Linked DNA regions of Homo sapiens. The protein of the gene in region 1 purifies or fractionates together with the protein of each later gene. This does not show direct contact. Each region holds a gene or a part of one and is shown on either strand. Other genes may lie near its edges. The genes, in order: SSX1 and NCALD.

Region 1 (4,512 bases):
ATGGTTCACTCCTGTAATCCCAGTGCTTTGGGAAGCCAAGGCAGGAGGATTGCTTGAGGCCAGCAGTTCCTTCCAGATCAGCAGGGACAACATAGCAAGACCCCATCTCTAAAAAAAAATTATTTTAATTAAAAATAAATAAATACATAAATAAAAGCACAGACTTTGGACTCAATTCTATCTTGGGGGTGAATCCCAGCTCTGTCACCCACTGACTATGTGACTTTGAGCAGACTGCTTAATTCTCTTGAGCCTCAGTCTCAACATCTGCATACTGGGGATGATAATAGTATTTAACTCCAGAGAAGGTTGTGAAAATTAATGGGAAGATGCACATAAAAGGCTTTGTGCTGGGCTCAAGGGCCATTGCTCTGTTCCTGCCCTAAGAGAGCTTGCTGTAATCCTGGGAGGATCTTAGAGAGATCAGGGCTGTAGGTGGAAAGCCCAGAGAGGAATGGGGACTTGTTGGAGGTACTAGGGATGGGGGTAGGGGAAACTTCTTAGACAAATTGACTTATGAGCTCCCTGATGAACACAGTGGGCCCTAATTACATACTCTTTTTAATACTATTATTATAAATATTATTAATATCAATGGGTAAAATATATTTCTGCTTCTTTGGTCTTTTAGAAAAAAACATATATGGAAGTGTAGAAGTGTTTTTTTTTGTTTAAATTTCTTTTTTAAAAATTTTTTATAGAGATGGGGGTCTCACTATGTATCCCAGATTGTTCTGGAACTCCTGGCCTCAAGTGATCCTTCCACCTCCTGCCTCAGCCTCTCAAAGTGTTGGGATTACAGGCATGAGCCACTGGGACTGGCTCATTGAAATTTTTCTTTCTTTCTCTTTCTCTCTCTCTCTCTTTTTAAAGACAAGATCTCGCTCTGTGGCCCAGGTAGGCAGGAGTAGCCAGATCATGGCTCACTGCAACCTCGTACTCCTGGGCTCAAGCTATCCTCCTACCTCAGCCTCCTGAGTAACGGACTACAGGCACACCACCCCACCTCGCTAATTTTATTTATTTTTTTTGTAGAGAAAAGAGACAGGGTATTGCTCTGTTGCCCAGGGTGGGGTGCAGTGGCATGATCATGGCTCACTGCAACCTCTGCCTCCCAGGTTCAAGTGATCCTCCAGCTGTGGCCTCCCTAAGTGCTGGGATTACAACCGTGAGCCGCCGCACCGGCCCAAATTTCTTACGTCACTACAGAGTTCCTAGGAAAAAATCCCATACCTGAAAAAGATAGAAACTGACAGGAAGGATTTGAGATGATGACCTGCTTCATATACACTCCTTATTAAAACTGGATAACAATGCACCACCGAGGAGGTGGGGAGGGATAGGAAAAATGAAAAGAGAAAATCAGCGCATGCGTACTCTGATTTGGGAAGACTCCAAAGAGAAAATCAGAGCATGCGTACTCTGAACTTGGAGTAGCCAATCCCAGGGGATGCTTTAGGCGGGAAAGTCAGAGTTTCTGCCTCCATTTTGAGAAGGTTCTGTCCCTAGAGCCTAGACTGATAGACCCCACATCAGCTTGGCTTGTCCCGCCTACTGTTCTGACTTCTGATTGGCCAGATGGAGTTCACTAACTGCCCTGATTGGTCCATCATCCTGGAGCAATGACATTGCAGAATATTTTCTCCTCCTCCAGCCACACTTTGTCACCAACTGCTGCCAACTCGCCACCACTGCTGCCGACCTCGCAACCACTGCTTTGTCTCTGAAGTAGGTTCTCTTTAAGGGACACCCTAGATGGGCTAATCGGGGCAGATAGAAAAGGAGGAAGCCTCTGTAGGGCCGTCAAGTGCTTGGGGTTCCGAAAATCTTGAGGACTGAAAGACAACTAATGCCTTTCAGGACGATCATCATGGAGGATCCTCCCGCCTCGGCCTTGGGTCTACAGGCCTGTATTATCCCACCCCTGTTTTTTTTTTTTTTTTTTTAGTAGAGACGGGGATTTGTTATGTTGACCAGGCTGGCCTCAACCGCCTGGGCTCAAGCAATCCTCCCGCCTTGGCCTCGGGACTACAGGCACGAACCACCCCACCCTCACTAATTTTTTTTATTTTTTATTTTTTTAGTACAGACGGTTTTGCTATGTTGGCCAGGCTGGCCTCTGCCGCCTGGGCTTAAGCAATCCTTCCGCCTCGGCCCTGGGACTACAGAAGTGCACCATCCTGCCCATGCTTTTTTTTTTTTTTTTTTTAGTAGAAACCAGGTTTCACTATGTTGGCCAGGCTGGCCTCAACCTCCTGGGCTCAAGCGATCCTCACACCTTGGCCTCAGGACTACAGATGTGTGCCATTCCGCCCCTGCTAGTTTTGTTGTTGTTGTTCTTTTTAGTAGAGACAGGGTTTCCTTATGTTGGCCGAACTGGGCTTGACCTCCTCGGCTCAAGTGATCCTCCCACCTCGGCCTCGGAACTACAGGCAAGAACCACCTCGCTGATGTTATTATTTTTGTTGTTATTATTAGTAGTAGAAATGGGGTTTTGCTATGTTGGCCAGGCTGGCCTCAACCTCCTGGGCTCAAGAGATCCTCTTGCCTCGGCCTCGGAACTACAGGCGAGCACCACCCCGCCCCCACTAATACTTTTTATTTTATTTTATTTTTTTTAGTAGAGGGTTTTTCTAGGTTGGCTAGGCTGGTATCAACCTCGTGGGCTCAAGCGATCCGCCCCCCCTTGGCCAAAGAGCTGAGATGTTATAGGCCTGTGCCACCGCCCCCAGCTAATTTTTTGTGTGGTTGTTTTTTTTTTTTTTTTTTTTTTTTTGTAGAGATGAGGGGTTTGCTATGTTTCCCAGGCTGGTCTCAACCTCCTGGGCTCAAGAGATCTGCACGCCTCGGCCTCCCAAAATGCTGGGATTACAGGCATGAGCCACTGCGCCTGGCCGATTGCTGCAAATTGAAACACCCCACATTTTCTCTAAGTGATGGCAGGCTCTTGTAATCTCAGAGATTCTAGCTCTCTTCCTTCTAATAATTTACAAATAACCCAGTAATAGCTTCTAAATCTGTTCATATTAGTGAAGGTCATTTCTCTTCAACAGAACAGAACCCCCCCATCCCTCTGCCTGATCAGATCCATCACCAGAAAGACCACGTTATGTCTGGGACTCACTTCCCTCCCTTTATTTATTGAGTGGGGGTGTCAGAACGCCCCCATTCAATAAAATTACACAGTCACGTCCCTGCCTCCCCAGCAAGGGTCTGTACATCTTTCAGGGTAAGCCTAGCCCCAGGGAAACTACTAACAACACTAGCCAACCCCCTCCCAAAGACTCAAGGCTGCTAGGAAACCTGTCATCCCCAAGCAATACTTCTCCCAGAGACTCCAGGCTCCCTGTTTTCATCTGACTTCTCTCCATGTCCTTACCCATGGACAGGTAAGCCCCGAATGGAGAAATGCAACCCCTAATTCCAGGTGACTGAGTGTGGCCGGGCTTCACTGATTTCTCCCTCCATAGGACCAAGGGTCCTGTAGCTAGAAAGTCTCAGGCTGTTTCTCTTGCAGGTGAGACTGCTCCTGGTGCCATGAACGGAGACGACACCTTTGCAAAGAGACCCAGGGATGATGCTAAAGCATCAGAGAAGAGAAGCAAGGTGACGTGACCTGGAGGGGGCAGAGCAGTGGTCCAGGGGACAGAGTAGGGTGACCAGGTTTCTGAGGAGGGGAGGACAGAGGTACTGGGGACAAGGAGCAGGGTCTCGGGGGAGATCTGGACCCTTGGGAGCCTCCCACCTGTGTTCTGTCATCACCTAGCATCCCTGGAGACAAGTCTCTGACCTTGCTCTACATTTGGTAACTCTCAGTCCATTCTGGAAGGTGGGAAGAGAGCCAGACAGCAGCATTAAAGCCCTAATGTGTGCCACGGGAGAAGCTAGGGTAGGTCCCCCATGGTCTCTCAGTTAGCCATGGCATCAACCAGGACGGATTATCATCCTCACTTCCCAGATCCAGCACACAGGAAGCGGCTCCAGCTGAATGGCAGACATACCTAGCTGAGTCACTGACAAATTTTATTTTATTTTTTTTAGGCCTTTGATGATATTGCCACATACTTCTCTAAGAAAGAGTGGAAAAAGATGAAATACTCGGAGAAAATCAGCTATGTGTATATGAAGAGAAACTATAAGGCCATGACTAAACTAGGTAACAGAAAGTTCTAGGAACAGACAAGTCTGGGGATACATGAGCATCCCTTTTCCTGCTTTGGCTACTTCTTAGGCTGCAGAAAGTACCCCACATTTTCCTTTTGTGCAGGGAAAAATCGCAAGGCAGCTTCTGGGGGTTCTGCTCTTCTGTATCCTGTCAGAGCTGAGGGCAGGGACTGGCCATAGTGGAGCTTGTACCTGGACCTTGCACTTTTCTCTCCCTTAGGCGTCTGTTCTGATCAGCCCAGCTGTCTCTGTGGCATTGCAGCACACCTCCCACCCTACCTTCCTCCTCTCAGCTTGTCTCTTTCTCTCTCTCTCCCTTTTTTTTTTTTTTTTTTTTTTTTGAGTCAG
Region 2 (3,816 bases), on another chromosome or scaffold:
ATGTTCTCTAAATTCTGCATGAAAAGGAATAATATGTTCACATAGCTACCAAATTGTAACTTTCTTTTATTTTCCTCCTTGAGATCCATTAACAACAGTCTTATGTCCCCTGGATTGGGAAACCCTTACCTGGTTAGACAGGGGTTAAGAGGAAAACTCATAGTGTTAGTACAAGTTATGCGAGTTAAAACCATGGGCCACAGAAGGTAGTTCATGTGCTCATAGCATTTGAAGCAAGCATTAAAGAATGCATGTGGCTTTCCAGCTTAATGTAAAGCACATACACGTGTGAATTGATCAATTGTCATGTTAATTCCAGATACTCAAGAGAGAGCCCTAAAGGTTTATCTGACAGAGGTCTCTAGGATGAGGCATGTTTGAAATTAAGCTGGAAGTGGAGACACTTCCCAAGTATCTGAATGCAGAACCTTATTTGGCTTATTGGATATTTAAGACCAATACAGGGGGTATTAATAGTATTGTTTAGTGTGACTTATGTAAGTAGTTGTCTCATTCAACATGTTTCTTTAAATGTGCAGAAAATAGTGCCTGATATTCCTCTCCAAACCAACAGCGTAACTTTGCAGTTGGTCAGCTGCCGTCACAGCCCTATATTCAGAATGTCCAAAGTCATCCTTTCTATGACATCAACACCCACTGTCTCCGCGTAAGAGAATGGGAGCTATGACATTTTGCACAAGCTGTTGTTTAAATTCAATCCAAATCCCTCGCATTTGAAATGGAAGCTTAGCAATTTGTCTTCGTGTGTTCTCAAAGGAATTACGAAAGAGATGTTCTCAAACGTTTCTTATTCTTTGGATTAGAAAAGAACACTTGCCTTGGGAGCTTTGAGTCTCTAGCAACTTGATAAAGAAACTTGGAAAAAGTTTAAAATCTCTGACTCCAGGCTGTACTGTTTGCTTCTCAAGCCAGGTGTTTGAAACTTTTCAAAAAGGAATGTGCCATTATTTTTCATAAAATCCACATTTATTTAACTGGTGCTTCATGATGGAAATCTAACTAGAAATAGCATTCCAAAATGTAGTATTTTTTATTGTTTTCAGAAGTGATACCATAAAAGTTAATGTTCACTAAGATTTTGATATAAAAATTATATGATAAATATTGAAATTCACTGGAGCCAAACTAAAAACAGTCTGCCCTTTTTATCTCAGTAGTGAACTTTAGGGGGTTTTTTGCATGTATTTTCATAAGTGCCTTTAAATAAAGACACGGCATCCCTTTAAAATTTAGTTTACATTAATGTAAACCAGAATATTCTCAGGTCACAATGCAGTTTTATATTTGATTTGTAGGAAATAAATCTCTAGCCTGAAAGACATTCCAGCTGTTGCCTGTCTTCATGGGAGGATTGTTCACATTTTCTGAATCTCTCCCAGTGACTGCAGGAAGACCAAAGGCTGCACATTGCTTTTATGCAAGGATGAATTTTTTTAAAAGATGATTTTGGATTTTGTTTGCTTTAATGAATTTAAGCCCTATCTATTAGAGGTAAATGTCAAGAAAACTGTTGTGTTCTTTGGCTATCTGCTCTGCTGACTCCCACAGACTTTGATATGATTCATATAACTCAAACCATGATCAGGTTTGTGACGACCATATTTACAATATCGTTGGAGATCAAAAATAGCATCTCACAAAAGTTTCCCCGTCCTATACCTTCCCACATCTTATCATGGATCATGTGCAGCACAGTCACTCAATTGGCGAACATTTATTAACGGACTACTGCATTCACAGTATTATAGTAGGCATGTGAGGTCCTCCCCTGATGGGATCCTCAAGTGAGATATGCTGCTGGCATAGAGAACCCAAGGGCCTTTATGGACCCTGGCTTTTGTTTGCTTGAGCTTTTATTCAAACATTCAGTCTTTCATGCATTCAGCAAATTTTGAGCACATACTACGTGTCAGGCATTGAGCCAGACCCCAGGGTTGCTATAAGGTACAAGACAGGGCAGGTCCCTTCCATCATGGAATATGCAGTCTAACTATGTAGAGAACTTGCCCAGAGACCTATATGTACTATTAACTGGGGTTCTCTTTCCCACAGCCACACTGGCCACTGCAGTCCAAAAGAGAATTCTAAAAGGAAACAGTACAAAACAGAACATCAAAACAAAACAGACAAACAACCTGGGAACCATTAGGTTTTACACCAGAGTGAAACCCCAGAAGAGACATTCTGCAGCTGGTGAACAGCCGGCCTCATTTGTGAGCAATCTGTTCCCATCAGTGTCAGGGATTCCAGGTCGGTATGCTCAGTCCTATTCCCAGTTGGCCAGAGGCTATTTGTCCTCTAGTTCAGAAGACAAATGAGACTGGTAGGGACCGACCTAGAGAGTATTTTCTTTTATGCAAATACCCTGTTTCATACAAATAATGAAAACCATTGTATTTTATGAAAGGAGTCTTTAAATTAGTGATATTTCCAAAAATATCTCTCCCGTCTTCCCTGTACTAACCCAGTCAGGACAGGGTCACTGCTGTAATAAATAGCCCCCAATCTTAATGGCATAATCCAACACTGTTCATTTTTCACTCACCCAGAAATCAGGATTGGGCGAAGGGCTCTGCTCCACACAGTCCTCCAGGGACTCAGGCTCCTTCTATCTAGTTAAACTGATCAGGGGCCTGTTTCTACCACTTGCTAGTGATACTCTGAGCAAGTTACCTAAATCAGAGTTTTCTTATGTGAATAATATTAGGGCATCCCTCTTGGATTTTTGAGTCAATTTACTTGGCATAGAAACTGACAGGTATTAGGTACTCAATAATGTGAACTGCTGTTATTAATCTTCTACTTCTGGTAGTGCTGCCACCACCATCCCCCGAGGAGGCAGGAAGAATCCGTCAGAATTGGAAGAGTATTATAATAATAGCTAACACTTAGGAAGCTGGATAGTCTTCAAAGTTCTTTTCAAAGTAACTATTTTTTAACAACATTCTAGTTTTATAAATGAGGAAATTGAGGCACAGAGAGCTTAAACAAATTGCTGAGTGTCACACAAGTATACAATAGAGCTCTAGGCATTTGGCTTCAGAGTCCTGGCTCTTTATTCACTATACTATATTGCCTTTCAACTTGGAATATACAGCAGAGCCTCAAATACCGTCATTTCATTCAACATCGTTTTGTTGTAATGTTAATGAGAAAAAATAATTGGTTTTGTTGTCAATGATGTTGTGAGGACTTACTATTATATATTGTATTTTCCCCAGAATTAATGTTATATGTTGTGGCAGATTGTATTCAAAAATAGCCTTACAATTGAATCCATTACCACATTAAAAAAATTTTTTTTTAGAGATGGGTTCTCACTCTGTTGCCCAGGCTGAAGTGCAGTGGTGTAATCATAGCTCACTGTAACCTCAAACCTGGGCTCAAGCAATCATCCCACCTCAGCTGCTTGAGTAGCCAGGACTATAGGCGTATGCCACCATGCCCAGCTAAATTTTTGTTTTTATTTTTATAGACTTGGGGTCTCACTATGTTGCCCAGGCTGGTCTTGAACTCCTGTCCTCAAGAGATCCTCCCACCTTGGCTTCCCAAAGGGCTGAGATTACAGGCATGAGCCACTGCATTACCATATGTTCTTCTAGAATCTTGCTCCTCTCCATCAGGAGGTGAAGTCTATTGCCCCTCCCTTTGAACCTAAATGGGCTTATGATTGGTCCAACTGATAGAGTACAGTGGAAATAATGCTAGGTGACTTCCAAGGATAGATCATAAAAAGAATACAATTTTTTTCTCTCTTGCTATTCTTTTTCTTCTTGACATTTTCCCTTAGAATCC

The links.
Region 2: the proteins of SSX1 (region 1) and NCALD purify together in Homo sapiens (affinity purification with mass spectrometry; one large-scale study listed by BioGRID and IntAct). This does not show direct contact.

The regions. Positions count from the first base shown.
Region 1 is NC_000023.11:48,253,705-48,258,216, forward strand, and holds the start of SSX1 (protein SSX1), read left to right. Parts: upstream 1-1,687; 5' UTR 1,688-1,728; intron 1,729-2,346; exon of another isoform or gene 2,347-2,432; intron 2,433-3,517; 5' UTR 3,518-3,537; coding exon 3,538-3,606; intron 3,607-4,041; coding exon 4,042-4,156; intron 4,157-4,512. UniProt on the Homo sapiens protein: Could act as a modulator of transcription. Plays a role in spermatogenesis.
Region 2 is NC_000008.11:101,784,310-101,788,125, reverse strand, and holds part of NCALD (neurocalcin-delta), read left to right. Parts: intron 1-2,073; exon of another isoform or gene 2,074-2,271; intron 2,272-3,816. UniProt on the Homo sapiens protein: May be involved in the calcium-dependent regulation of rhodopsin phosphorylation. Binds three calcium ions.